4 linked regions of the Homo sapiens genome follow. The protein of the gene in region 3 interacts with the protein of the main gene of each other region in a pairwise test. Each region holds a gene or a part of one and is shown on either strand. Other genes may lie near its edges. The genes, in order: PAX5, FRMD6, TLK2 and GMCL1.

Region 1 (7,435 bases), on a different chromosome or scaffold from region 3:
CTGTCTCAAGTCTTTGGGAGAGAGAGTAGTCCCAGCGCCCCTGGCCTGCAGGACATGCTGGTAATGATAACACACCCCGACTAAGGTGATTTTACATGATTCTTGAAAAACCTGGTTAAATTCTCATTTTTTCTCCATCCTCTTCAAGAACTCCTGAAAACAGGGACAGGTCAAGTAGAGCAGACTCCTGATCCAGGGGCAGGAATCATGCAGGAATCTGCTGTGCCTCCACTTGCTGTATAATTTCAGGTCAATTTCTTTCCCTCTGATACTTAATTTTTTTTATTTTTTAAAAATGAAGTTTAGACAGAACTCAGTGGGTTGAGACAGCCATGCTGGCAGCATCCCTGATCTTTCCAGAACTGAGCAACCAGTCTGAGCCCTATTGGGCCTCACTTTGTCAGAAGCAAGAACAGGGAAATGGGCTGGACTTGGGTTGAGAGAGTCGATGTCAGGCTACTAGAACACTGTAGCAGCCCCCACATCCTGAAGCCACGGTAATGCAGTGCGCTGGGAGGCGTGGAAAGGGAAGCCGGGAGGGGGTGTGTCCCCAGTGAAACGAGGTCTCTGGCTTCTCACACATTATTCTCAATGGGCTGTCTTTCAGTACTAAAACTTTCAAAGGCAATTCGGTTCACATAAATTGAGTTTCTTCCTGGATAGTTTCCTTTCGCGGTCTCCTGCCCCCAGCGCCTAGCACAGGGCCCGGCCCAAAGCCCTGTTACTGGGAGAAAGAAAGCGCATCACTGTAGATCAGAGTGAGGCCCGACTGCGTTGAGAGCCGCGGTGAGAGCTGCTAGTCTCGCTCTCCTGGACCCAGGCTGCGGCTCGTGGGCGTTCAGAGACAGGACTGAGGCGCAGTAGCCCGGCTCCACCATGGACTTGCTGTGCAGCCTCGAGCTAGTCACGTAACCTCTCTGGGCTGTCGTTTGGTGACCTGTAAGGCTGGGCTAGGTGGTCACGGTATGAGGTCCGGTCGCGCCTTTTGGGGTTGGAACTTCCCAGAGGCCGCCCGCTCGGGCGGTGATGAATCACCCCTATCCAGAGGGAAACTCCTTCCCCCAAGAACGCCGAGAGTTGCGGGAAGGGGCTGCTCTGGGTGCACAGGTAAGACGGGTCCTGTGTGTGCCACGCAGCAGAACACTGTCCCGAAGCCGAACACCTACTGTGTGAAAGGGAGAATCGGCGCTACTCCTGCTCGGGCCGTGCCCCGGGGATTCTATGCAAGCCTCACGGGTATCCGAAGGAAAACCTGCGTGTGCGGGCATATTCCAGCCGAGTTCTTCGATTTGGCAGCATCGCCCCTCCCCCACCATCCCGAGAGCGGCTCTGGAGAGGCGCTTTTGAGAAAGGTTTCCAGCCCGCAGCCTTTCTTCTACCCCAGACTTGCTGTGTGACTTTGGACAAGTCGTATCCTGCCTCTGGGCCTCGGGTTCTGCACCCGTGAAATGGAGAAAGCATAGCTTCGAGGCCCTTTTAGCTCTAAGAATCTAGAGAACCTGGGTTTGTAGGCCTGAGCTCAGCAAGAGAGGCTGGGGGTGGGGGTGTCACTGGCTGCATCCCTCAGGGCGTCCCGCACTCCCGCCTCTCCAGTAGGTGTGCAAGCCGCCATGTTGAGTCTGGGCCGAGGATCTGAATTCTGGTTATTTCCGACCCACTGGGCGCCATCGGGTGAAGCCAGTGCAGGAAGTCTATTCCATCCCAGTCCCTCTCTGCTGTTGCGATCTTCCTGCTCCAAGGCCGGGGGTGAAAGGGGAAGATCCGGACAGGCGGGGTTCCAGACAAAGAAGAGATAACGCCGCCACTCCACCCCGGCGCGCACTGCAGCCTCCTGGGTCCCCAGAGTCCCGCCTGGGGCCGTTTTCCGCAGCTGTGCCCTGGTGGGGGGTGGGGACGGGTGTCAGCGCCGGAAACTTGTCTACTGGTCAGGGACAGCTGGGTGTGGAACAGGGACAGAAGGTGGGCCCAAGAGTCGACCCCAGTGTAGGAGTTTGAGAAGTAGAGCATGCGTAGAGAGAAGGCAGAGGAAGGGAAACCGAGGCAGAGAATAAAACAAGAGGATAACCCAGGAATCCTCTCATGATCAGCCTGTACTCTTCCTTACAAGCCCAGTCCTGGAGCAGGCATCTCAAAGCCCTTGTTTTGTGGATTTATGTTTAATATTAGCGGATCATCACTCATGAAATAGAAATTGAGTCTTCGGACCACTCCCATGAGTTGCTGGGGCAAGGGAATCCTCAGCGTCGTTCTTGAGCCAGGGCCCAGATGGCTCACAGAACTATAGCTTCTTGGGTGAAGAATGACTGTCACACGCTTCCTTTTCAAGGTCCAGTTTCTTTGATTGTTGTCTCAGAGCCTTAAAACCCACAAAGAAGCGGACTCGCTAGTCAAAGATCCCTTGTGTAGCAAGAGAGTTCTGCTACAAATCCATCCATTTTGTCTACATAGGGACAGGAACTTCCCCTGTAGAGGGAAGGTCAGTTTCCCATCAACTGGAAGCTGCCGCATTGCAGCGCGCCTGGCCGCTTTGCTTGACCCTTGCAGATAGAATGCGCCTGTCCACCCGCCCGCTTCAGGGACCCTTATTAGCCCTGGACGCGACTTGGCTCATTCGGTTCTCAAGAAGCCTTGAGCCGGGTGCGGAATTTCTCCGGTGGACAGAAGCGCAACACCAGCTCCCAAAGCCTCTGGCAGTTCCTGATCTGAGGCAGGAAAGAGGGCCAGCCACTCTGCTTGGGCAACCTGGCCCAAAGCCTTAGCCCCTCCACCCAGGTGCGCCCTGGTGCGCCCCAGTTACTAACTTTAAAGGAGTGTGAGATATTCTCCCCCTTCCCCCAACGTCTCTGCCTTTCGTTAATGCAGCAATGAGGGCCCTGCAGGTGGAGTGAGGGAGGAGGGTGGACGACGAGGAGCCAGTGGTGGTTTAGTAGGTACTTGATAAAATTAGGAAATAAAATTAGGAAATATTTCCGTGGAAGGAGCCTTCAGTAAAATCTAGTTAACCCCACTCTGCCCATTTTACAGAAGAGGAAAGTGAGGTCAGAACTGGCAGATATGCACACACTCCGATGCACACAATCCGATCCCATCACGAGCCTGATGGTACAGGATCCCTACTGCGCTCCTTGTCTTCCTCCAACATACATTTTTTGTTTTTTGGTTTTTTTGGAGACTTCCCCCATTCTCACCCTTCAATCGACTGCTCTCAAGCCTTGAGAGCGTCCCAGGATCCCAGCATCGCTGTGGGGAGGTCCAGCCCGCGTGGGACCCGCAGCGGGACTCTCCAGGCACTGCGTGGGCCCCTTTCCCCTCCCCACAGCCGCGATCCACTAGGCCTTAGTCCAGCGCGTTTGTCAATGAACGTGGCGCCGCCGCCTGGGCCCCGCCCCCCATTCTCTCCCATTGCCCAGGTGTCCGCTAATCAGGCGGAGCCTGTGGGCTGCTTAGCCAATGGGGCGGTGTTTCGGGCCAGGGCCGGCTGACGCCACTCTGATTGGCTTGGTGGAGCGTGATTGGCAGGTTAGCCCCCGCCCCGCCCCCGCCCGGAGGGAGCTGAGCCCCGGGCGGCGCTGTCCACACGCAGCGGGTCCTGAAAGCGGCTCCGGGGCGGCGCGGTGGCGCACTGTGCGCGCCGAGCAGGCGGAGGGCTAGCGACGGCGGCGGCGGCGGCAACGCAGGCAGTCAGAGCCGACTGCGGCTCCATCTCAGCCCCGGCAGCCCCGGCGGCCTTGGTGGCTGGGACCCTCTGCTCTCTCCTCTGTTCCTCACTCCACGCCTGGGGCAGGCACGGCGGCCGTCCCGGAAGAGGCAGCGGAAAGACAGTGGAATCAGACCCACGAGGGAGGGCGGCGGGGCTCGAAGAGTTGGTTGGCACGAGGTAGACACCCCGGCGAGGAAGAGTCCGTCGCTGGTGTCCCCGTTCCTGGTCCCAGCGATGGGCGAGCAGCGGGGGCCGCGGGAACTTTGAAGGCAGCGGGTCTCAGTGTTGGAGGGCTGCACGCTCCCGGGGACTCCGGAGTCGCGGCCCCAGCGTCAGGGGCGGAAGCATCTCCAAACCCGCCAGGACCCCGCGCTGCCGGAGAGGAAGTTCTTTGCAACTTCGTCCGAGACGTCGGAGAGCCAGTTGGAGAGAGGCGGAGGGGGCAAGTCCGAGCCCCAGAGACTCGGAGAAGCAGAGAAAGAAAGGATCTGGCGGAGACCGAGGGGTCGAGGAGGGACCTCAGAAGCATCGAGGCCGCGGAACCAGCCTGGCAGCCCCCGGGTCTCTCCGCCCCCTGAGTGAAGTCAAGGGCCGATTGTTCCGGCGGCCTCCTCAAAGCTGCTCCTTCCTGGGGCCGGGGGCTGCTGGCTGTCCCGGAGGCGGGCCCCTACGCTATGCCCCCGAAGCCGCGGGCGCCTTGGCCGCAGCTACCCCGGGCTGGGCCCGGAGCTGCTGCTTGAGCCAGCCAGGGAGGGAAGCCAGCCGGAGTTGGGCACCCGCTCCTAGCCCGGGTGCGCTAGCACCATTTCCCGCCTCTCCGCGCAGCTCCGGGCGGTCTCCAGCAGGGAGGCTCTGAGAGAGACCCCGAAGCTCCAGCAGTGTTTTCTGAGCCCAGCTCGCACAGTGCCTGGCCTGGTGGCGAGGCTCCCTATCCGCCCTGGGCAGCCCCTTGGCGCCGGGAGGCGGCGGCGTGGGCCGGCCTGCAGTCTGGAGCGCCCCGATGGAAATACACTGTAAGCACGACCCGTTTGCATCCATGCATAGTAAGTAGGCGGCGAGCTCGCTTCTCTCACTCTCCCGCCGGGACCGGGTTGGGGGTGCCGGACCGTGGGTCAGGTACTAAGGCCGGAAGGATCTCGGACCTCTGCAGCCGCGCAGCTAACTTTGCAAAGTGCAGGGATCCCAGGCAGGGGACCTGAAACAACGCACTTGGCCGCCCGGGCTGAGGCACCTGGGAATCCCGCCTCCGGCAACGCGTAGCTTGGGCAGCGAGCTGCAGCCTTTCAAGGCTCCGGCGGCGACATTTCAGCTCTTTCGGAGAACCCTGGCTTGGACCCGTAGAGGGCTCCGGGCCAGGCCAGTTGGAGGGCAGTAAGTTGTAGGGAGAGGCCAGTCAGAGTCTCAGACAGCGCCCCACACCCCTACTCCGATGGCGCCTTTTTCAGCCATGGGGCTGATCCAGACTGGCGCTTGGAGGGATAGTGGGGCCCTGACCCGTGTCTGTATGTGTGGAGGAAGAGGTTGAGAGCTAAGCGAGGACACCGGGGCTAGGGCTCCAAAGGCGTCCTGGAGTTGAGGAGGGGGCTTTGAAAAATCAAGGAAGTAGCGGTTTCTGAGTTCAGCTTCTGCTTAGGAGCCGGCCAGTTCATACAGAGACCCTTAAAGACCCCATTGGGTCCTTCTCTGCAGGACGCCTTTTCTCATGGCTTCTCCCCTTTAAAAAAAGAGGATAAGAAACGAAAAAGAAAGAAAGAAAGAGGAAGCCAATTAGTTACCACGCAGGCACCCCCGCCTCTGAAAGACGCAGCGTGTGTAGGAGACGGGAAGGGTCATTTAGGGCGAGGGCAAGGCCGGCCTGGCTGCCTGGCCCGCAGGGATCCTGCCAATTCACCCATTACCACAGCCTCCTGTGAGATGAGCGCTCCTCTCACGGTGAGTTAACGCCGGATTAGATTCGGAGATTTCAAGGAAATTCCAAGTGGAACGAATCGCGTTTCCTTTCTGTTTGCTGCAGAGCCAGGCTGGAGGAAGGTGACAGGCTTCGGCAGCCTCGGCTCGGGTGCCGCTCGGGGTCTCTGCGGGCTTCAGGTCAGGGAGTTGCTCCCGGGCTAGGAGCCGTCCCCATGCCTGGTCCTCCCACCCCGCTCCCCCCCATCCCAACAGCCTGGGATCCAGCTTTCCTAGCCGCAGGTCCCCTATTTAACAAAGGCAGCAGAGACCCGGCTGGAGTGAAGGTGAGCTTCCCGGGGCGAGCATGTCCGTGTCTGCCACGCAGTGCTGAGTGGCCTGGCAAGCAGGGGAAAGCTTGTGTAGGCAGCCAGGGCTGGCTGCGGGCAGGTCAGTTTCTCTTTGTGTCAATTTTCTGAGTCTGAAGTAATCCACCAAAGCGGTGGGGAGCTCTGTGCAGAGGAGCCCCCTGTTCTGGTCCCAGCCCAAACGATTCCTCAAGGTTTGGGGCCTGCGCCCAACCGGTTTCCAGTCTGTGGTGACCCCAGTGCCCTCCACAGCCTTTTCTGCCTCGGACTCCAGCCTGGCTCTGGGGAGGACCTGATCTTGCAATGTAAGCCCAAAACAAACCAGTTAGGGCAATGCTCTGAGAGGTGAGCAAGCCCTTGGCTCAGCCAAGGAGCAACTGTGGGGACAGATGGGGAGCACCAGCCCCTGCACTTCTCTCCTCACTGGTGGAAATCCACAGGCCCTCACTGTGTCCTTCCGCCCAGCGCTCGGTGGCCCAGAGGTTGTGCCCTAGCCCTTGGGGAGATAGCATCAGACCTGGTGGTCTCTCGGCTGAGCATCAGTGTGGAGAAGGCGGCTTCTTTCAGGTGCAGGTTAGCCAACCGCTAATGTCTGTGCCTCCTTGTCCGGCCTTCAATCGCCCCCTCCGTGGGAAGTGCTCCCTCCCATTTTCAATCTCCCTGGCAGCACAGTGGGGGCTGGGCCCCAGCCAGTCTAGCTTCCAGAGCAGGTGCAAGACCTTGGCTTCTCTGGAAGCACTCTCGGTTCTGAGGCCCAAAGCTGTTTTCTTGCACAATGTAGGCCTGCTCTGGGGCCCCAACTTGCTAGCAATGGGGAGTGGGGGGTACAGTAGATCCTGGAAGGTGGCTGAGGTAGTAGAGGCTCAGATCAAGTCCCACTTCGTCACCTTCCTCCTGGCCCAGTCAGTTTCTTCTTCCTGTTACCGCTCCCTGCCTCCGTCCCCCTACCACTGCTTCCCCCCACCACTGCTTCAGAGCCGGATAGCTTCTTTGGAGAGGAGCAGGGACTTCCAGGAAATGGGCTTCTGAGTTTGGAGGAGTCCCCACCCACTATTCCAGGCTCATCATTTTCATCAGCACGATAACCTCCTGCTCTCTTCCTGAGCGGTTCCCCTAGGTATCTTTACCAGTTATAAAACACTCATAGCCAGGGTCCTACCTGACGGTGGCCTAAACCTTCAGCTTCACCCATTTTGCAGAATATGATATTGAGGTCAGAGAGACAAAAGGACTGACTCAAGAAGTTCACATTGGCACAGCTGGAGCTGGTTCTTGGGTCTCCCTGACCATCTGACAAAGGCATTAAAATGAAGCTTCAGAGGGTTCACAGAAGGGGAGAGGGAGGGACTCAGATTCCAGAGAGAGGGCAGTGGGTATACACATATGCAAAGCTCTCTCTCTGTCTAGTCTAACCATGTATATGTCTACTGCCTGACTCTCCACATGTATCAATACCATTAGGGAGACTTCTTCCCTGCCC
Region 2 (7,435 bases), on a different chromosome or scaffold from region 3:
CACAGCAGCTCTTTTTGGGTGATGGGACACTTGGCACATACCTCCTGCAGCAGATCCCCCTGGGAGGAGACAAACTGGGAGGCCACAGTGAAAATTCAGTACTGGGTCTTTGAGAACAACAGAGCACCTAACCTAAGCACTTTAGCACTCGGTGGAAACCCGCCAAAATTTCAGAAGCAGAAATCCAGGGCTGACATTTCCCTATGTGACTGGCATATGAGTGAAGCACTGAGTAGAAACATGTCTCAGAAGGTAAAATTACCAATAAGAACTAGAGGTGTAAGTGAACACCGCTGAAATTTTTCTTGCCAATGGATGAAGCAAGTGTACTACAGGTCAAGCCCTAGATCCATAAGGCCAAATGGCTTCTTAAAAAAAAAAAACAAAAAACCCTTTAAGTAATGTGATTCTTATTCAACTACTGCTAGTAGTCTACAGAATGACTTGTGTTCTATCCCTTAACTCTTTAGAAACATCTCATAATGACTCAGTGTCTAGCATATGCCATAAACATATTAAGTATTCAATAATTAGTTCAATTGAAACATGAAATATGAAGACATTACTGGTTTACAAGTAGACACTTTAAAAACTCAGGGGATACTCATGTTTTAGGAGTTAGTACAAATGGCTTTAGTAGAGGATCTAGAACGATCTTTATCTTCTAAAGAGCATTAAACCTTTAAACAAGTTGTCATGGTTCCTTTTCGATTTCCTGGTAAATGTGCCCTCAGCTATCATGCCTGTAAAGAGTATTCTCCAAACTCAGACCCACCACTGGAAAAGTCAACACCGAGCTGATGCTCAAAACACTTAACCAACTCCTATCAAACTCTGTAAGAATGAAAGACAGTGTGGTATACTTCATCACTACTCAATCTTAGCTGAGTGTTTTTTTTTTTTTTAAAGATATGGAACACTTCACAAATTTGCATGTCATCCTTGCCCAGGGGCCATGCTAATCTTCTCTGTATCACTGCAACTTTAGTGTATGTGCTGCCAAGGCGAGTACTTAGCTGAATGTTTTATAAGCAACGTTTAAATGCTCAAATTAATAGAGAATTTAGAAAACTAAGATGATGTAAGAAAGAAAATAAAATCATCTATATCTATAACCCTAACATCCAAATAAAAGGCTATTAATAGTTTTACGTTTTTAAAATACACAAATAAATATTCTTGTTTTTAATTAGATGACATTTTATATAATTTTTACTATTTACCTTAACTATCCTTCTTATGTTATTAAATATTGTTTGAAAATCTCGAATTTAATGGTTATATACCATTGTATGAATAAGGTATAATTTAACCACTTGTTCTTTTTCTTTTTTTTTTTTTTGACAGAGTCTCACTCTTTTGCCCAGGATGGAGTACAGTGACACAATCTTGGGTCACTGCAACCTCTGCCTCCTGGGTTCAAGCGATTCTCCTGCCCCAGCCACCCATGTAGCTGGGATTACAGGCCTGCAGCTAATTTTTTTTTTTTGCATTTTAGTAGAGATGGGGTTTCACCACGTTGGCCAGGCTGATCTCCAACTCCTGACCTCAGGTGATCCACCCACCTTGGCCTCCCAAAGTGCTGGGATTATACGTGTGAGCCACCACACCTGGCCTTACCACTCATTCTTTAATTATTTTTATAACATTTCAACAAACTTTTTTTATATATAAATCTTCTTAAACAGCCAGGCTTTTTACTTAAATTTTATTTCTATTTAAAATTAACAGTCTTATAAAAATTAAATGCAGAAATATATAAACGCAAAGTCCAGGTCAGCTTCCCTCATACCTCCCTTCCCAAAGGCACTGCGGCATACACAGTTTTTAGACCATTTCCTTTCCACAAGCATAAACACACAGAGCTATATACATGGACCTATAATGTGCATATAATTGTGAATTTAAATTAAAATGTAATTATAGGAGAAAATTCAATATCATAAAGTACATGGGCAAAAAGGGGCAAAGTTTGGTATATGAACTCTAAGCATGTTTAGGGTAAGCAGCCTAATGAGTCAGTGTTGGTCAGAGAGATGATTCCCTGCAGCTACAGGCAGGTCTGGGAAGCCAGGGTTCTGTTGGGTTAGCGAACAGAATTCTGAAATAAAAGATGCCTCCTGCTCTTGAAGACTAAGTGCCAGGATGGTAGTGACTGTGTATCGGTCTGGTTCCTCTCTGATTTCCAGTGCCTGGCACCTGGAGGAGGAGGCTCGATGAACATCAGGAGCTGTGGATTTGCCAGAGCAGGGACAGGCTACCTCAGTCAGGCCCTTCATTCAATCAAAGCTGGAAGGGGCCATTTCAATAGTGCTGGTTCCTGAGGCATATTTCTCTAAAGAACAGACTGATTCATGATGTGTGACAAAAGCAGTTAGATCTGACTGATGTCTATAAACAAAACTGATACTGCTGCCGTTTTTTAAAGATAGTATCTTACATGTAACAGAAATATATATGATGTATTATATAACTATAGGGAATGCATGTTTTCTACAGGAATTCATACGAATATGGAATTTAAGAGTGTCTTTTTAGGTCAACCCATTTTGACACTTTTCCTCCCAGACTCCTCTACCAGTATAACACAGTGGGAAAAACAAAAAACAAAAAAACCCCAAAAACCTGGAGGCCTACTTCTGTTTCTAGCCATGTTGGATTTGTCCTCTTTGAACTATAGGTTAACTTATCTGTAAAAAGGAGGCCAGACTGAAGGGGTCTACAAGGCCTTCCAGATACATTATATGATTCTCGACACAGCATAACATAAAGAGAACCCTACTGTTCAACTACCTTTTGTCCAAAGCATGGAGCACAAAATGCTAATTCCCAGTCCTGGGTGTTTCTCCTCTTCCCTGCCTTCCACAGAAGGCACAGGATCCTGCAGTTTACAACACTGACCTGAAGAGACTCTTAGTGCAGTCCAGTCTCTGGTCTAGGGCCCCCAGCTCACCCCTTCTATTTTCTGAGGCATGTGTTTTTCAGTCCTGGATAACCTGCTACCAAGGAAGAATAACTTCCCGTAAGAGCTCACCAGAGTGTCCATTCAGCTTCCGCGACATGAGCATGTCCTCTGTGATGTAGATGCACATGTCTGGGCTGACTTCCAGAGACTCTTCATTCATCTGCTCCAGATCCCGGGGGTCATCAACCAACATCTCTATTTCTGACACAGAAGAAGGAAAAGATAGTTAATGACAAAAAGGGAAATGACCATCATAATATGCAACCATATTTTGAGGGTGGCTATGTAATTATTCCTATTTGAAAATAAATTTGCTAATGAGACTCCAATAGGAAACTCCAGGGACCATTTTCAACAGGTACTACTTGTTTACTCCTTCCCTCCTTCCCTCCTTCCTTCCTCCCTTCCTTCCTCCCTCCCTTCCTCCCTCCCTTCCTTCCTTCCTTCCTTCCTTCCTGGGACCATTTTCAACAGGTACTACTTGTTCCTTCCTTCCTTCCTTCCCTCCCTCCCTCCCTCTCTTTCTTTCTCAATTTCTTTCTTTTTGAGACGAAGTCTCACTCTGTCACCAGGCTGGAGTGGTGTGATCTCCGCTCACTGCAACCTCCGCCTCCTGGGTTCAAGCGATTCTCCTGCCTCAGCCTCCCGAGTAGCTGGGACTGAAGACGCGCGCCACTACGCCCATCCAATTTTTGTATTTTTAGCAGAGATGAGGTTTCATCATGTTGGCCAGAATGGCCTTGATCTCTTGACCTCGTGATCCGCCTGCCTTGGCCTCCCAAAGTGCCAGGATTACAAGTGTGAGCCACCATGCCTGGCCTACTTGTTCTTTCTTATCGGATTGCTGCATTACCTATATGTGTTTTAATACTATAATTTGCCCATTATTCTGTATTTTTTAAGAAGAAAAACTATACCACCTTGCTGCAATGACAAAGGACAAACCGAAACTGATGGGCCCTTTGCCTGATACCAAAGCAAGGCTCACTGACACAGGCAGATGACAGTTCACAAAGCCCCCCATGTCCATAGCTGCCTATTCTGAAGGGCACTGAGTGACTTGAGAGCCACACAAATTCTACAGAAACCAAAAAGATGGTCTGCACTTTTCTTTAACAAAGTCTATCTTTTCCGTCAAGCCTGAATGCTACAGCACTTATTTGAGACAGAAAAATAATATAAAAGAGGGACACAAATGTTAAGTTTGGCTAAGATAAGCCATAGGATTCATCTTATCTCCTTAACATGCAGTAAGTTCCTATCAACCAGGTGCTATATTTCTTTTATCCTCCCTATAGTTCTGGTTACATGGGAGGCGCTTCAGAAAAACATTACTAAGTAACTCAATGGCATGGACTCCAATCTTTACTTTGTGGGGAGGGGTCCAGAAGTTCAAGATGTTTCTGTCACTATTACTGCACTCCACTGTGCTGTCCTAACCACTGTTTTATTTAATCTGGGAAGCAGAAATACAGACACAAGGGCAGCAGGACTAATTTCCAATCTACTTCATAGAAACAGCTAAGACTGAGTCTACAACCATCCAGTCTTGTGGCCGCAAAGGATCACAACTAGAGGGATGTTTTGTTCACAGCCAAACACAAGCAACTCAACCAAGTCATTGGGGAAGACAACAAGACACCTCTTCCACTTTATTACTACTGCCTAAAGTTGCTCTCCAGACACCAGTTCTATAGAACCAATGCTTGAAAAAACTGGGAGACTAAACAGAGAGCCAGTGAGGGGACAGTACTGTTACCATCGTCCTGTAAGTCCTCTTCCAGCCGGTCTTTGCCGCCACTCTCCACCCCTGAGGTGTGGGAGCTGCCATGACTGGTCATTGAGCTGCAGGTTTTCAGCTTGCGGTGGATGGCACTGCTGGAGTAGCTGTCTTCTGGCCCCGTGTCCCGGGGCTTGGTGTCTGCCTCAATGCCCGAGGTGTGGGAACTGCTGTGGCTGGCGGTGGAATGACGGGACAGGCGCTTGTGTTTCATGCTGCCCGCACTGCTCCCGCTGGCCCGCGACCGTTTTTCCAGCTGGTCCATGTCGAGGTCCAGGTTGTCACTGATGTAAGATTCCCGGTACTGCTTCTTCTCTACGTGGTGGGGAACACAGTTCATTAACCAAGACAGAAGGAACGGCTGGTGAGCTTAAGTGACTCATCAGGCCAAGAACAAGGATAACTTCAAATTCAGAATCTAGTGATTGGAAAGTAGTAATAATTTAGATAGGAATTTGACTTCAGAAGACTGAAAAATGAATAAAAACCAGTGCAACAGATTTGAGGGGGATATTTAAACTACTTAGTTTTTTGAAAGCTTCAAGCAGTATAAGAAGAGTGGTATTTAAAGTGCAGTTACAGACCACTTCTTGTCTGCAAATTTATTGGTCCATAGTGAAATAAATTCAGTGAGTGATATGAACATTTAGAAACTTCCAGAGCTATGTGACATTGCCATGACAGCCACCAATGTGATTTTGTATTTTGCGAAAGTATCCATAGCATATTAAATATTTTAAAAATCTGGCCCTTTTCTGCAGATAATTTCAGAAGCACTGCTCTAGAAGACTACTTAATAAATACAATTATGCTAATTGCCATTCATTTTATTTGTTCATTTGTTCAATTTGTTCCACTGTTAGCTTAGCTCTAGCTGCTGAATACAATTTAAAATAAAACTATTCTTCTGAGAATTTCTTGTGAATATTCTAAAATTTGGATTTTCATTAATATAAGATTGATTTTCTCCACTTAGGCTGAATTAGTGAGGCTTTATCATCTACTTAGAAAATACCAGTAATCACTACTGGTTTGATGATTTCCAACTCTGACTGGTAAAGCTGTTCTTTGATTTCACATGTCAGTGCTGTTCTTTAACGCAGTCAAACACACAACACTGCAAAGTCTCTTTTATTACATATAAACTAACCATTCCATTAAGGCACAAAGTTACAACCCAGCTGCCAGTTACAACTCAACTGACACAAAAATATTATTCTTGTCTTTCAGGTCAGAAATGTAAAACAAGGAAGAAGTTTAGATTCCTTGCCTTTTTAATACTGGTGAGAAATAATACAATAAAACAATGTTAAAAATGGAGAGTGCATTTGGGGAATGTGAAGTTGATCTGATTTTAGAAACTAGTAGACTAATTGGGTTCTCAGGGGCCTGTTAATGGATTTTAATTGTCTTGTTTCTTGGTTAAGTGAAAATACTTGCATGCCTGATGTCTGAATCCAGCTCGGAAGTATAATCATCACAGGGTCCCTAGAGAGAAAATGAGCAGGAGGAGAAAGAAAAGATGCGCCTTCTAGGATGCAAAATGCAAAAAAAAAATGCTTGGAGAAGGCTATGTGCACATTTCCAGGTTCCAGCCTATTCACATTGTTCTAAGGAACTGGCTGAAACACAAAGGTGAGTATGTGTTGCTACAGAGAAAGCAGGCTGAAACCAGACACCAGAGCTCCACGCACATATCATCACAACAAAAATGCATCCATGTACAACTTGTCAGGGAGCAGACTGGGGCCTAACAATCCCCATCTTCTGAATCAGCAGGTGTGAGATGAAGGTGGACAGCTAAAGCAGTTTGCAAAAATTACTGTAGTTTTTATTCACTGTGGTTTCACAGCAATAGCCATGTGGCCCTTGGATGAGTGGCAAGTGAAGAGAAAAAAGTAAAAGTCTCTAAGTTGTTGGAGTTCCATTGTTCTAAAATAATTAGGAACTGTGGACCTAATAATTTAAAAGCTTTTCTGTATCTTTACATATAGCCTTTTTACTCTCAACTTCCTGATAGGTTCAGAGATCACTATAGTTCCTCTATATTCACTAGTATGCTCACGAGAAGACAAGTACTTGCCAGCCTGTTTTCTACCTATTCCTGTCAACATGTTAGCATGGCCTGGGTGTTCCACATGGCTGGCTTCTCTTCCCTCCCTAGTGCTGTACCAGACCCTTTCCAGACATTTAGGAAGCTTCACACCGTTCAGTTACAAACTGAGAGAAACATTAAATAATTCTGAAATGTTTTCTAAGAAATGTAAAATGCAACCTCTCATCCCCCTAATAATCACTGGTGTCAACAGTGCAGATCATCAACATGCCTGTGCTCTTTTTACTCCCTCTGTTGTAAAAGCCCAGAGACAATGAGGTTTTTCATACGCTACTTTGGAAAATAATGCAGTAAATGTGAATACTTATCCTAGGAATAAGCTCCAGCTGTTGAATAAAGTTAGGCTTTAACATTTTTTTAAATGACGCAAGGCATGTTTTTGTTTCTCTTCTAAACCCTATGGAAAAATCCTTGTGATCATTTTCTACTAAAATGCTAAAATAGTGTTTTAGACAAGGTGACTCTACATAAAATTAAGAAAAACACAGACTCTTTTTATGCTGTTTTTTGCTAAACTAATGCCCAAAAAAGGGCTTTTCATGTTAAAATGATAAAGCCCTTAAATGGGGGTGAG
Region 3 (7,484 bases):
ACCTCCTGGGTTCATGCCATTCTCCTGCCTCAGCCTCCCAAGTAGCCGGGACTACAGGTGCCAGCCACCACACCCGGCTAATTTTTTTTTTATTTTTAGTAGAGACTGGGTTTCACCTTAGCCAGGATGGTCTCGATCTCCTGACCTCGTGATCTGCCCGCCTCGGCCTACCAAAGTGCTGGTATTACAGGTGTTGAGCCACCGCGCCCGGCCTAGAAGACGGAAGTTTGCATGTTGCCCAGGCTGGTCTCCAACTCCTGGGGTCAAGTGATCCACTGCCTCGGCCTCCCAATGTGCTGGGATTACAGGCGTGAGCCACTACACCTGGCCTCTTTTTTTTTTTTTTTTAAGAGACAAGGTTTCAATATATTGCCCAAGCTAGACTCAAACTCCTGGCCTCAAGCAACCCTCCTGCCTCAGCCTCCTAAGAGGCTGGAACTACAGACAGGTGCACGCCACTATGCTTGGCTCCTGTCTATGGCGGAGGTTGCAGTGAGCAGAGATTGTGCCATTGCACTCCATCCTGGGCGATAGAGCCAAACTTTGTCTCAAACAACAACAAAATCCCCTTAGAGCTCTTTCCTAGCAACCAAACGTTTTTCCATTTTGTTAGGAATTGGAAGAAGAGAGGAAATAACTGGCTAAGTAACTACTCTATATCAAGCACGGTTACAAGGCATTTTCCAACATTATTTCAATTTTAATGAAAGCTGCTCATGAAATTAGGTTTACTGGGTCACAGTTTTCAGATGAGGAACCTGGGACAGGTGAAGGGACAGAATTGGAACCCAGTTCTGTCATACCACAGATGCCCCACCTGTTCTACACTGGCCTGTCAAGAATAACAATAATAATAATTATTATTTTAGAGAGAGGCCTGCTGTGTTGGCCAGGTGGACTGCAGTGGCACGACCTCGGCTCACTGCAACCTTCGACTCCCAGGTTCAAGCGATTCTCCTGCCTCAGTCTCCCGACTAGCTGGGATTACAGGTGCCCACCACCACGCTCAGCTAATTTAAAAAATATTTTTAGCAGAGATGGGGTTTCACCATGTTGGCCAGGCTGGATCTCAATCTCCTGACCTCGTGATCCACCCGCCTTGGCCTCCCAAAGTGCTAGGATTACAGGTGTGAGCCACCGCGCCAGGCCCAATGATTATTTTAAATAATAATTATTTTTTTTGAGACGGAGTCTCGCTCTGTCACCCAGGCTGGAGTGCAGTGGTGTGATCTCGGCTCACTGCAACCTCCGCCTCCTGGGTTCAAGCGATTCTCCTGCCTTAGCCTCCCGAGTAGCTGGGACTACAGGCGCCCGCCACCACGCCTGGCTAATTTTTTTGTATTTTTAGTAGAGACAGGGTTTCACCGTGTTAAGACAGGATGGTCTCGACCTCCTGACCTCATGATCCACCGCCTCGGCCTCCCAAAATGCTGTGATTACAGGCGTGAGCCACCGCTCCCAGCCTTAAATAATTACTTTTATTTTATTATCATTATTTTTGAGACAGGGTCTCACTCTGTCACCCAGAATGGAGTGCAGTGGTGCCATCTTGGCTCACTGCAACCTCCGCCTCCTGGGTTCAAGCAAAATTCTCCTGTCTCAACCTCCCAAGTAGCTGAAAGTACAGGTACGTACCACTATGCCGAGCTAATTTTTGTATTTTTAGTAGACACGGGGTTTCACCATGTTGGCCAGGCTGGTCTCGAACTGCTGGCCTCAAGTGATCCACCCGCCTTAGCCTCCCAGAGTGCTGGGATTACAGGCGTGAGCTACCGCACCCAGCCTACTTTGAAAAATGGGATCATCGGCCAGGCGCGGTGGCTCATGCCTGTAATCACAGCACTTTGGGAGGCCGAGGTGGGCGGATCACGAGGTCAGGAGTTCGAGACCAGTCTGGCCAACATAGTGAAACTCCGTCTCTACTAAAAACACAAAAAATAAGCCAGGTGTGGTGGTGTGCGCCTGTAATCCCAGCTAGTTGGGAGGCTGAGGCGGGAGAATCGCATGAACCCAGGAGAAAGAGGTTGCAGCAAGCTGAGATTGTGCCACTGCACTTCAGCCCGGGCGACAGTGTGAGACTCTGTCACCAAAATAAAATAAAATAAAATAAAATAAAAAGATCCTCTAGCCCAAATCCCTCCATCACAGAAGCAGTTGGAGAAGTTTGAAAAGGTTAGATGATAGGCCCATGTGGCTTGTCTGTGGAAAGAGCTAGGCTGCAAGACACCTCTGACTCCATTGAGTGCTTTCTCTTACTCTCCTTTCCCGATTTAAGACATTAAATCATTTAAGACAGTGTCATTTGGTCGAGTGCGGTGGCTAACGCTTGAAATCCCAGCACTTTGGGAGGCTGAGATGGGCGGATCAACTGAGGTCAGGAATTCGAGACCAACGTGGCCAACATGGCAAAACCTCGATTCTACCAAAAAAGAAAAAAAAAAAAAATTAGCCGGGCCTGGTAGCGCGTGCCTGTAATCCCGGCTACTCAGGAGGCTGAGGCAGGGAGAACTGCTTGAACCCGGGTGGCAGAGGTTGCAGTGAGCCAAGATCGCACCACTGCACTCCAGCCTGGGCGACAGAGCGAGACTCTGTCTCAAAAAAAAAAAATTTTTTTTAAAAAGACAGTGTCATTTGATGGAGTTGCTTTCTTGATCGTTGGCTGCAATTAAAGACCTAGCCTCACTGTCTTTTGTGTTGCCTTGGACCGGCTCTTAGGTTCTACCGCCCTAACAGGCAGTGGAGGCTGGCCTCGAGTGGTAGTCCTCCATCTTGCCCTCTTTTCCTACCCTCTACCCCCAACCCGCGAGCTGCTCTCCTGTCTTCTTCCAACACTGTTCTCTTTGGGAATATGCATGTCCAACTTCCCAAGCAGTCTGGGATCTGGAGTAAGATGACTCTTGGTTTAATGAAGTTTTTCCACAGTGCTTGCATGTGCCCCAAGGGTTTGGAAGGTTGGAGAACTAACAAAAAGCAAAGAGCCATCCTGTGTCGTTTCGGCAGGTCTGTGTTCTGTTAAAATATGGAAGAATTAAGAGAAGAACGAAGAAATAAGGGCAGAAACTCCACTGGGGAGTACTTGTCTAACCCTGAAAAAGTTCAAGGCTGTTGTTCAAGGTCTGAATTTTTCCCTTGAGATTTGCTTGTAGTCCTTAAAGTCATCTTCAGACATCTGATCAAGGCAGCATCCGCGGAAAATTATAAGGTGGGTGGCTGCACTGGAGCCTGTCCTGGCTCAGGGGCGCCGGTGAAGAGTGATTTTTTTCCCTTGGCCTTGGGGGATCAGAGGGGGTGCCCTCTGCTATGCAGGAAGCCCTCCTTGCCCGCTAGATAGTTCTCATTCCTCAGGAGATACTCTGTGAGGGGCCGGCGTGTTTTCTCCATCTTGGCACTTACCCTCAGACCCTCCTAAGTACCCGGGAGGGCCGTGTTTTTCATCGGAGGTTGAAATGGAACCTCCCCCTGGGTGCCCGGGGAGAGTACCTTGGGGGCAGCGCCCCTCCTTCCGGAGGGCAGCATCCCCGCGGGGGCGGGGGCTCGGCTTTGATCCCAGGGCACCTTTTGTCCCTGGAGACGCTCTGCCAGCCAGGTACGTGGAGGGAGTGCAGCCCGCCCTCCCGGGCGACGCGCGGGGCTGGGGCGGGCCGGCGGCTCCGGGGAGTGGCGGCCGGGAGCCCGCGAACGCGGGTGGGCGCCGTCGCCTCACTAACCGGGCGCCTCCGGGAAGTCCGGGCGGGGTCCGCCGCTCACACATAGGATTAGCGTCCTCTAAACTCCATCCCTGGGAAAAGCCGCCGCACTTCTCACCCAAACTCGCGGAGCCGAGGGGCTGGGCAGGGGTTGGGCGGGCGCGGGGGCCGGCGAGGCGGATCCGGGAACGGGTGGACCCGGGCGGCCAAGCCCCTTCAGCGCCGGCCCAACCGCCCCGGCCCGGGCCAGTCCAGCGGGGCGGGGGCCGGCGACACAAAGGCGGCGGCGGGTCCTCCGGGCCTCCGGCCTCGGGCAGTCGCAGGGCGCCCCGGGCCGCCGGACCTCCCCTCGCGTTGCGGCCCGTCAGCCGGCGCCGCCCGTCGCCCGCCCTCAGCCGTCCGGCGAGGCGCGGCTTCCTCCGCCGGCGCGGGGTCCCCTGGTTAACCCCTGCCCGGCAGCGCGGCCGCTGATTGGAGAAGGCGGGGCGCCGGGGCAGCGGGGACCCCCCCCCACCTTCCTCGTCCCCTCCCCCTGCTCCCCCACTGTCGGCGCTTCCCCCACCCCCCCAGGACCCCCCCCGCCTCCCAGCCGTGCAAATCTCGCGAGGAAACACGCGGTTTCACTAGTGTGTTTACACCGATCACTACTAATCCGGACCGAACCGATCCGGATTAAGGGGCCGGAGGCGGGTCCTGGGCACCAGCGGTTCCGACCCCCCCGCCCTCCGCGCCGCACCCGAGTGGCCCCCAGCCGAGCGGGCCCCCACCTCCTGGCCCGGCCTGGGCCCTCCTGCGCCTCCCTTGGCCTTTGTCCGGCGCCAGGAGGCCGGTCCCGCGCCCCCCGCGGCCGCCCGGGCCCGGGCCCGCGTCGGGCGCCTGGCTCTGTACGCGAGCCCGGGGATCTGCGGCCTTCGTGCCCCCCCTCCCCCGCCCGCCCTCTCGTGGAGCCCGGCGCCGGCGGCGGCTGCCCGGGCGGGGGGTTGCGGCGCTCAGGAGAGGCCCCGGCTCCGCCCCGGGCCTGCCCAGGGGGAGAGCGGAGCGGTCCGCAGCCGGGTCGGGTCGGGGCCCCTCCCGGGAGGAGCGTGGAGCGGCGGCGGCGGCGGCGGCAGGTGAGAGGCTGAGCCCCGGGCGGGGGAGGACTCCAGGCCTGGGGCATTAACCGTCCTGGGGACCCCTTTGGCCTGAGGAGCCTGCGACCTGGGCCCAGCTCGGGGCCGGCTCCGGACCGCAGCTCCTGGGCGCTGAGGCGGGAGGGGCTCCCTGAGGGCTGCGGGTCGCTGAGGGGCCGGGCAGAAGATGGGGGAGGCCCAGGCGGCCCCGGCCTGGGATTGGGGCCGGCGGCCGGAGGAGAGACGGGGGCCCCCAGGCAGCTGGAGGCCTCGGCAGCCTCCCGGGCGCCCCCGAGAGCCGGCCCTCCCTTCCTCCGTGACAGGTGGGCCTGGAGTTGGGGAAAGTTTGGAGCCGGCGAGGGGCGCCGGGACCAGGCCCCATCGCTCCTGCTTCCCGGCTGTGGGCTGCAGGGAGGATCCCAGTCCAAGGCCCCGCTGGAATTAGACGGAGTGGCTATTTCCTTAACATGAGTTGACATTAAACGGAATAACCGCCGGGGCGTCATTTTCCGGGCCGGGCCTGGGGATGGAGGTTTGGGAAGTGTTGCGAGAGACCTTGGGGTTTGGGAGAGACTGCAACCTTTGCCATTCCGACCTCGATTAGGGCAGGGCAAGACGCGAGGAAGGCCACGGGGGAAACTCATTCTCCCAGTCTCTTTTTTTTCCTTCTTTTTCTTTTTGTAAAGATGCATTTCAACCTTTCTGAGAATTTCCTAATTCTCTCTCTAACCTGCACTTGCATGTGTGGGTGAAACTTTAATTTGTCACCTTTTCATTCCCCTTTGCCCCAGGCTCTCAATCCAGGAAGGGAAATGAAACTGAAGGACTTGTAAGGGGGTTGTTACTGGAGATTGTAGAGTTGTTGGATTGCAGAGGAGAATGTTCGATTCATCTTTTCAGTAACTTTAAAATCACACCAACCATTCCAACTACTTAATAATGTGTTCGAAGGGGTTCTATGTAATATGTTTCTTTTCCACTGTTAATATTAAAGAGAGGTTTTAAATGGGTCGTGTAGGAGTTGGTCTCTTGCAAAGGATGAACATATTTGCTGAAAGTAGCCTGTGCATTAATTGGTTATGGAAGTTTAAAAATGGTGTCCTCCTGCCCCTCCCTGCTTGGAAGAAGGGCTAAAAGCAGATGTCCAGAATCAAGAGAAAACTACTGCAGGGAGTGGTCAGAAAAAGATTTTTTAAAGGGATTGTTATGGAGCTATATTAATTTACTGAGTGAATGGAGGTGGATGGTTTTACCGTGGGCTCTCTATTAAATTTAAAATAATTCCTTTTCTCATGAGCTACTGTGAGCTCTTCAGAGACAGGAGCTGTATAATAGTGATTTTGCAGTTATTTGTAGCTTCTGATTCATCCTATATTCTTTTGAAATTATTGTCAATGATTCATATTTTTAGTTTAAGGACTACTTCCTGAGTGGGAAATAAATATCTGAAGATACTTAGCTAGATTAAGGCTGATAGAAGGAATTTTCTTTTTGCAGGCTAGTTCTTGTTTTGTTCTTTCCCCTGTGCTCAACTTTTACAGAAATTATATGAAGGGTTTGAGGGGTTTATTTTTGCTGTTAAAATCAAATCAGAACTAGGGAAGAAAAAGTGGCTGTCATAGAAGAGGACTTCTGAGCTGCTTTAAAACTTTTCAATATATTACTGTTTGATGCAGCACATAGTAGTCTACCACTTGTATGCTATATTTACTTGAGATTTACCTGCATTTGATCTTTCAGTGAAATAATTACTGTGAGTTTTGTTCTACAGAAAATTGCCTCCTCACATTTTAGTGTTTATGGTTTCACAGCCTACTTTTTCTTTTTCAGCAGAAATGATGGAAGAATTGCATAGCCTGGACCCACGACGGCAGGAATTATTGGAGGCCAGGTTTACTGGAGTAGGTGTTAGTAAGGTGAGTAAAATGATGATCATGAACACTATTCATATTCTAATTTAAACACATTTTTTAAATGATTAAGAGCAATTTGGGTAGGCCCTTCTGATAGTTTGCAGGGGAGAAGATTTGGGTCTTAATTTCAGTGAACTTTTAGATCCTACTGGTCATTCCAGTAGTCATTTAACATAGTAGGTTTGAAAATGTTCTATATGGGAATATATGTTTCTTCTTCCTTTCTGGTATAGGAGAGGTTTCTCATGGTTCTTGTTACAAGGAAACTAACAGGATGTGTGTATAGATTCTATGCCATATTTTGTTAAAACTTGTCAGCCATTCAGAAAGAAAATTACAAGGCATTGCATAGCTTTGTTACATTGGACTTTGGAGGTAGTTACATGGTAGAGTATTGAAAAATTGGCCTCTGTGAAGTCTGCAGACTCTTTACTGGTTGCACCCCCAGACTGGTTTGTTGCTCTTCTCATTCTTCCTTCTTAGTTTTTATTTTTGTTGCAGGAGCATAATATTAGATTAGGCCCCCATTAACGGGCACGTATGAAGTTAAGCAATGTTATAGTTTCCTATGCATGTTTATGTACCCACTGGTCCACCCCTCTGCTCTCATAGGATGATTTTACAATGTGTAAAATGTTTGATTTTAATACAGTATGCAAAGTATATTTACGATATTTTATTTAAAAGCTTTATTGGTCCAAGATCATATTACTTGGGCTTGAGATGTGTGAACGTATGAGCTACTGAATTTTTTTTTTTGAGACAGAGTTTTCCTC
Region 4 (7,435 bases), on a different chromosome or scaffold from region 3:
TAAGAGAATTGCTTAGTCATAAACTATGGTTTTAGTACTATTCAAGACAATAAGATCAAGAAACGTGCTAGTTATTTAGAGTGAAAATGATATCACCAGTTATTTGTTTTGTTTTGCTTTTCCTTTGTTCTTTCTTTCCTTTGAGCCATAAAAAGCCAAGAGAGCACGTGGGTTTTTAAGAGGATCCTGCTCCTTTTTCAAAAAGTTCAGTGAGAAATTAGAGTCATCCCCCTGTATCTGTGGGGGATTGGTTTCAGAACCTCCTACAAATACCAAAATCCTCTATGCTCAAGTCCCTTATATAAAATGGCATAGTATTTGCATGTAACCTATGCACATCCTCTCATATACTTTAAATCATCTCTAGGTGTTCTTACAGTACCTAATACAATGTAAATGTTATGCAATAGTTGTCATACTACATTGGGTTTTTTTGTTATTATTTTTTATAGTTTTTCCCCCAAATCTTTTCAATCGGCAGTTGGTAGAATCCACAAATGGAGAACCCATGGATAAGCAGGGTTGACTGTATTAAAGTGTTTCTAACGATTTTCAAATCAAACATTCTACGGTGATTTATTTATGCCTTGACATCACCAGGTGATGAAAGTCTCTCACACTTCTCTACCAAATTATCTCGTAAAGGCAAAAGAAAGGAAAAAAACCCCATAATCTAGGAGGTGGTCTAACCATAAAAAGTAACATTTCTATAAATTGTATCTTGAGAGTTCAAGGAAATTTGAATTCCCTCTATTCCATAATGTATTTAAACATAAAAATATTTACCTCTTCCCCACCTCCTCCCCACCAAAAAAAAAAAAAAAATCAGTAAAATTCACATTCTGGGAAGCTATGTAATGTTTGACTTTGGTTTTGTACATTTCCATCAGAATGTCACATACTCTCGGACACATTTGTATCCTTGTCTCAGAAGCACTGCTGTCAGGGAAATGCAAGCCAGAAAATGACTGTAATGCCAACCAGCCTTCAAAAGTTAACTGCTAGCCAGATTTTCTCAGACCCATCACAAATATCTTAGTCCCATTACTACAAATAAGCTCTTTGACAGCAAGAGACCATGACAAAATCATCTCTGCATTCTTCACAGCCCCTAATAGAGTATCTTTACATATAAAGGACAGTCAGGAAGTACTTGCTGCAGGAATAAATGGATAATATGCGTACTTAATCCAAAAAGCCAAACTAAGCTGGGTGCAGTGGTATGTGCCTATAATCCCTGCTACTTGGAGGCTGAGGCAGGAGGACTGCTTGAGCTCAGGAGTTTGAGTCTAGCCTGGGCAACATACCAAGGCCCCCATCTCTTTAAAAAAGAAAGGCTGCTCTGCAGCTTGGGTGGTGGGCAGGGTGGGCAGTCCTCATTGTCACCGCCATATTTCTTGTAGGTTTTTAGAACCCTGGAATCCATTTCTCACGGGTGACTGCGGTCCTATTATTCCAGCTTGGACTACATAGTCCACAGGTGATGGAGAAATCTTGGACCTCTGGCTCCATCTCCAGGACCTCTGGCTCTGCGCTGTGCTGCGTCTGACCAGGTCCCGCTTGAGGACGAAGGCGGCGCAGTTGACTGCAGGAGCCTCTGCAGCCCCAGCCTGAAGCCTGCATGGGACCCTGTGTGGCGCTAACAGGTTTTTTTTAAAGGAAGATTGATATTTTCTCAAAGAGAGGGGATGTCACTATGTTGCCCAGGATGATCTCGAACTCCTAGATTCAAGCAATCCTCCCACCTTGGCCTCCCAAAGTGCTGGGATTATAGGTCTAGGTTTTCCCAAATCGCTTTTCTGGTAGAGAAACCCTGAGGACTGATTGGCTTTTGCTTGTCTAAAACCATGGCCTGTGAATTTGTAACATTCAGGGACATGGCCACAGACTTCTCTCATCAGGAGTGGGAATACCTTGACCTGGTTCAGAAGACCTTGTACCAGGAGGTGACGGTGAAGAACCATGGTAACTTGTCTCACTCTCACTGAGGCTGGAGAGCAGTGTCGCAATCACAGCTCACTGCAACCTTGACCTCTATGGCTTAAGCAATCCTCCTGCCTCAGCCTCCAGAGTAGCTGGGACTACAGATTTGGATTCAAGGTGTGAAATAATCAGAGATGGAAAAATATACATTTATAGGAGACACACATTTGTTACTCCACATCAGAGAATTCATCCTAGTGAGAAAACGGATCAACATGAAAAGTTTTTGAAGGTAAAAAAAAAAAAAAAAAAAGGCCAAAACAGTTTCTTCAAACTTATTTCTCAATAAAAAAGATGATTTTTAAAATATAACTTTTAAATTCTCTAACAGCCTGGCAAAACCTGAAACTTTTCTATAGTCTTATAACAGTAATGCATTTTTCGGTTAAAACAGTAGACATAATATCCATTATATTATTCACAACAAAGAAATAAGTTTGCACAGCATTTCTTCAGTTTATGGATGTAGTCAAGCCCTTTCATTAAATTGTTTGCTTTTTCATAATATATTTTTGTGTTCTACAAAAATGTTATGTACTTTAACAAATGATAAACAATATTTTAGGATGACTAATTATGAAGTTACTTGAAATTCAAATACCTGAGTTCTTTAAAAAGTTCAACATTCTGGTGAGTCATCAAATTGTTTAGAAGCCATTCAAGGCACCTGAAATTAAAATATATAATTATTACATTATATGCCATGTATTTACAATTTATTAAGTAGGACTTATAGTTAAAATAAAATCAGATTAATCTTGCCAGAACATGCTCAAAACTTTTAGCTTAACAATAGGAAATTTAGTATTATTTTTGTCAGTGGATATTATTAAGAGAATATTTCCTTTATATTAACGAGAGCATTTCCAGTTTTAAAACTTCATTTTGAGTTTGTGTTAAATAGTTTATTAAGGGGTCTGCATACTAGTATAACCTTCTTTAAAATCTCAAAACAGGTACTGCAACTCTCAAGAGTTAGAAGGACTGTCAGTCTATCAGGCCTACTTCTTAAACAATTTTAATAGAAAATATACTATAAAGTGCAGTGGCATGATCACGGCTCATTGCAGTCTTGAACCTCCTGGGCTCAAAGAATCCTCTGACCTCAGCCTCCAGAATAGTGGGGACCACAGGTGCATGCCACCATGCCTGGCTAATTTTTAAAATTTTTTGTAGAGATGGGGTCTCCCTACATTGCTCAGGCTGGTCTTAATCTCCTGGGCCCAAGTGATCTTTCTGCCTTGGCCTCCCAAACCACTGGGATTACAGGTGTTAGCCACCACACCCGACCAAGGTGACCATGGTTTTTATAAGCATGTATATAACCCACCTATGGTCACTTACAAAGACGACACTTTTGAGGAATTTACTAATTAGTCCAAAAGTTAAAAGGGGCTTTTTATTTAATAAAATTCCATCCCCCTATCCTATTTTTCCTTAATTCTTTCTTTCTTATAGCTATACATTCTCTTAAGAAACTAAAGCAACCAAATTCCTAAAAGTGGGATAGGAAGAAAAACAAGAAAGGCAACTCACTTTTTCTTTACAGAATCTAATCCATAGGTCCCTGCTGATGTGTAATAGCCACATACAGTTTTCACATTAACTGTTTCCTTCATTGTCTCACCACACTGCTGTATTAAACCGTCCTGTAAATATAAATAAGCACTGGAAAGGCCCATTTCACGTGGGAAAAATTAGCTCTGACAGCTTTTACATATTAAAAAGTAAAAGAAAAAAAAAAAGAAGAAAGAAAAGAAAGAAAACTCATTAAGTGCAGCAAACCTAAGTTTTTTTTTTTTTTTTTAACAAGTCCAATAAAAATACTGAAAAAAGTTCAGCAAGTATTCAACTAAATACTTGGAATTTGAAAATGGAAGGTGGGGGGGAGTAGTAAGGTAGAGAATGAATACTGCTATTCTTTTTCTTTTCTATTCTTCCCCTGTCTGAGACCTTTGCAAATTTCTTTAGCAGCATTTTGTCTGTTTTGCCATTTCTTTTTAAATTAAGAAGTCTACATAGTCAGTTAACCATGTGATGGGACTAAACTAACAGTATGCATTAGCAGAAAGTGATCAAGTTTAAAATAACTACAATATCTAAGAGATAGACTTAAAACAAGTATATTATTATTTCAAATGATTAACATTAAAGTTTTAACCTAAAATGTTTATATAGGTTTTAAGTGAACTAACTTTAATATATGGGAAGAATACTACTTTTCATTCAAATTTCTGAAATACATTCATCATGCAGGTATATTAAGTTAAAGAGTTAGTAAATCATAAAAGTAAGCAGAAGGTGAATTTAGAACAAAACCAAAAGGACCAGAGTTAGATAATAAAGTATACTTATTGGAAGTAAGTATTGAAAGGATCAAAACATTTTGAAAATCAAATGATCTCAACCAAGGATATTTAGCAAGCTATTAATACTTCAAATAAATCAGTACAAAAATACCACATAAAAGTAAACAATTTTTTAAGATTAAAATAAAACATTGACTCCATTAGGATTTTAAACTTACCTGGAAATCATTCTAGACTCCTCCCCTTTCCTCTTAACATTTAGTCTATCACCAAGTCCAGTGGATTATCCCTGAATCTCTCTGGTATCCACTTTTTCCCCTCCAAGCTTATTGCTACTACCCTACTTTCCTCCCTTGGACGAATGCAACAAGTTTTTGTCTCTAATGCTGTACTCATCTTTCCTTCAATTCATCTGTCACATTGTTACTGAAGTATTCTTTCTAAAACATAACTTCGTCTTTCCCCTGATTAAAATATTCCAAAGGTACTGTGTATGCTAAACTTCTTAGCAATGTATAGATGTATTTTCATGATCTGGCTTCTGCCCCCCTCTTCTGCAATCCTTCTTATGTTTATGTGGGAGCCATGTTTCTGTTAGAGTCTTGAATCCTCCATTATTTCACATCACTAGATCTTAGTTTACTCTGTTCTCTCTGTCTGAAATGCTCTTCCTTCCCCTCTTCTTACTTTGCAATACAAACACACTTTCAAGACTCTGTGTGAAAATGTAACTTTCGTATGTGACACCACCAGGATGAACTGACCACTCCCTTCTTTATCCATTCACTAAATGCTACAGGATGTTTATTATCATACCTATAATATTGAACAGCTCTTACTTTACCTTTGGGTTTGTATATCAACCCTCCCTCCCCTCTCCACACATACATACTATGTTGTGAACTTTTTGAAAGTAAGGATTACGTCTTAAGTTACCTTTGGCTTTCTGTGTCTAGTTTGACACAGTGCTCAACACACTTCTCTTCAATGAACAAATCTGTCATTCTGCCAGTAGATTAAAATACATATATGTGATTTATACACAATTCTTTCAAAATTAAGAGAAATTTAAATAGTAGGCATGCATGTTTATTTGAACCCATGAATGAAATTAATTGGTAATCATAAGCCATCTGCTTAATAGTCAAGTCATTAATGAAATCTGTAAATGACCTTAGACAAGTACGTTTTTTCCACATTATAGTCATACTAAGATATCTACACAGAAATGGCCTGCATTCATTTTATGCAGACATCATGACTCCCTCGGTTGTAATAAATTGCTTTTGGTTAGGCATTTTAAATGATTTATAATAAATGTCATATTTATACATTTCATTTTTATTTAAAAACTCCAAAAAAGCTAAGCTTTATTTTTGTTTTTGGAGTACACACTTTGAGACAAAGATTATTATTCTGAACCTTTCTTCGAATAACGTGCATACTTACCAACTGCAGCAAACAAGCTGCTGCCAAAATGGCAACAACTCGACTGGGCTTTATCAAGACATCATCTCGATACAGTGAACCAAATGCAACCTGCAGTGCTGAAAGCAAGGTACACATGTAGGATGAAATAATATTTATATCTATTACAAGTGTTATACAAATAACAACAACGACTGTCTTCACACACAAAGACATCCGTCTAAATGTGGCATGCACATAAAAGGATAACAGAAGTATCTCTAATTAAAACGCTAGTAATGGTTACTGGTTGACACTGTTAATTTAATAACAAGGTTATAAATTTCTGTTTATTCTACCAAATCTAGCTGCATTCTTCTAACATGTAATCTTGACATCAGTGGTCACAACCAAGATGCCTTGCAAGAAGTTGTATAAGATACTCCTCAGTAGACCAATCGTTAAGTACAAATACGCAGACTCAAAGATAATCTTAACCCGGCTGCTTTCAGCACTCCACCACTGAGAAATGTGGTACAGCTCCTGAGTCCTGTCCATGCCACACTCATTCCCAGCCCCCACAGTGATCTATGCCTGTTCATCCTTCCTCCACTGCCACTGTTATGAATGTCCCACATGGTTTGCTTTGTAAATATTCTTTTTTTTTTTTTTGAGATGGAGTCTCGCTCTGTCGCCCAGGCTGGAGTGCAGTGGCGCGATCTCGGCTCACTGCAAGCTCTGCCTCCCGGGTTCACGCCATTCTCCTGCCTCAGCCTCCCAAATAGCTGGGACTACAGGTGCCTGCCACCACGCTTGGCTAATTTTTTGTATTTTTTTAAGTAGAGATGGGGTTCACCATGTTAGCCAGGATGGTCTCGATCTCCTGACCTTGTGATCCACCCACCTTGGCCTCCCAACGTGCTGGGATTACAGGCTGTAAATATTCTTAACTAAAGTATTTCTTTGCCTTTGTATCGCACCAGGTACTTCCATGTGGACCACCAATGAGGGGAGCAGCAAGAGCACTGGAATGGGAATGAGGAGAGCTGTAGTCTGACACAGGCTCACTAAACTGCTCTGAGATCCAAAATAAGTCCCTTAACTCCTCTGAGCCTCAGCTTCCTCAACTAAGGATTCTTTTAGCTCTAAAACAATATTTTTATTTATTGTTCCCAGAAAACATCTTCATACATAGGGAATAATCAGTATTATTTATCAGATTTTCTATGTAATTAAAAAAAAAAATGGTCATACTTTTCCTTCCTCCATCCTACATCTTCCATATCCCAGGTGGGCATATTTACAAAGATAAGTAAACAAACTGATAAGGCCCAAATGACAAAACAGATTAGTGATAAGATGGACAGAACTGATAAACTATGGTGTAAATCAACATCAAATTATCACCTTGAGGTGATAAAAGGAGTTTTCTAGACTACAAGGCTGGAAGGAATTATTTATCTTCTACCAGAAGAATAAGATTATGTTTTTACGATTGTTGCATAATAGTAATTATTGTGGTAGTTACCTTCTACATCAATGTTCTGGTCAGGAATCTCCAGTTCAATAATATTCATGCTGGATTCTTTCCAAGAACCACTGAACATACTAGAAAAGTAGCCAGACTTAAACAAAAAAAAAAGTCAACGATTATCAAGTACTTTCTGTGTCTTCCAAATTATTTGCCCATTTCTAATTCTAAGCAACTATTCTATCCATTAACTAAACTCATCCAT

The links.
Region 1: the proteins of TLK2 (region 3) and PAX5 interact in binary tests that used the Homo sapiens proteins (3 or more experiments, as listed by UniProt).
Region 2: the proteins of TLK2 (region 3) and FRMD6 interact in binary tests that used the Homo sapiens proteins (3 or more experiments, as listed by UniProt).
Region 4: the proteins of TLK2 (region 3) and GMCL1 interact in binary tests that used the Homo sapiens proteins (3 or more experiments, as listed by UniProt).

Annotation. Positions count from the first base shown.
Region 1 is NC_000009.12:37,023,841-37,031,275, reverse strand, and holds part of PAX5 (paired box protein Pax-5), read left to right. Parts: exon of another isoform or gene 1-2,356; intron 2,357-3,188; exon of another isoform or gene 3,189-3,331; intron 3,332-7,435. UniProt on the Homo sapiens protein: Transcription factor that plays an essential role in commitment of lymphoid progenitors to the B-lymphocyte lineage. Fulfills a dual role by repressing B-lineage inappropriate genes and simultaneously activating B-lineage-specific genes.
Region 2 is NC_000014.9:51,717,680-51,725,114, reverse strand, and holds part of FRMD6 (FERM domain-containing protein 6), read right to left. Parts: intron 5,061-7,435; coding exon 4,725-5,060; intron 3,167-4,724; coding exon 3,035-3,166; intron 1-3,034.
Region 3 is NC_000017.11:62,474,496-62,481,979, forward strand, and holds the start of TLK2 (serine/threonine-protein kinase tousled-like 2), read left to right. Parts: upstream 1-4,329; 5' UTR 4,330-4,795; intron 4,796-4,948; exon of another isoform or gene 4,949-4,982; coding exon of another isoform or gene 4,983-5,118; intron 5,119-6,272; exon of another isoform or gene 6,273-6,292; intron 6,293-6,625; coding exon of another isoform or gene 6,626-6,630; coding exon 6,631-6,711; intron 6,712-7,484. UniProt on the Homo sapiens protein: Serine/threonine-protein kinase involved in the process of chromatin assembly and probably also DNA replication, transcription, repair, and chromosome segregation. Phosphorylates the chromatin assembly factors ASF1A and ASF1B.
Region 4 is NC_000002.12:69,839,346-69,846,780, reverse strand, and holds part of GMCL1 (germ cell-less protein-like 1), read right to left. Parts: intron 7,325-7,435; coding exon 7,228-7,324; intron 5,840-7,227; coding exon 5,742-5,839; intron 5,299-5,741; exon of another isoform or gene 5,229-5,298; intron 3,694-5,228; exon of another isoform or gene 3,666-3,693; coding exon of another isoform or gene 3,633-3,665; coding exon 3,520-3,632; intron 2,651-3,519; coding exon 2,585-2,650; intron 2,197-2,584; exon of another isoform or gene 1,914-2,196; intron 1-1,913. UniProt on the Homo sapiens protein: Possible function in spermatogenesis. Enhances the degradation of MDM2 and increases the amount of p53 probably by modulating the nucleocytoplasmic transport.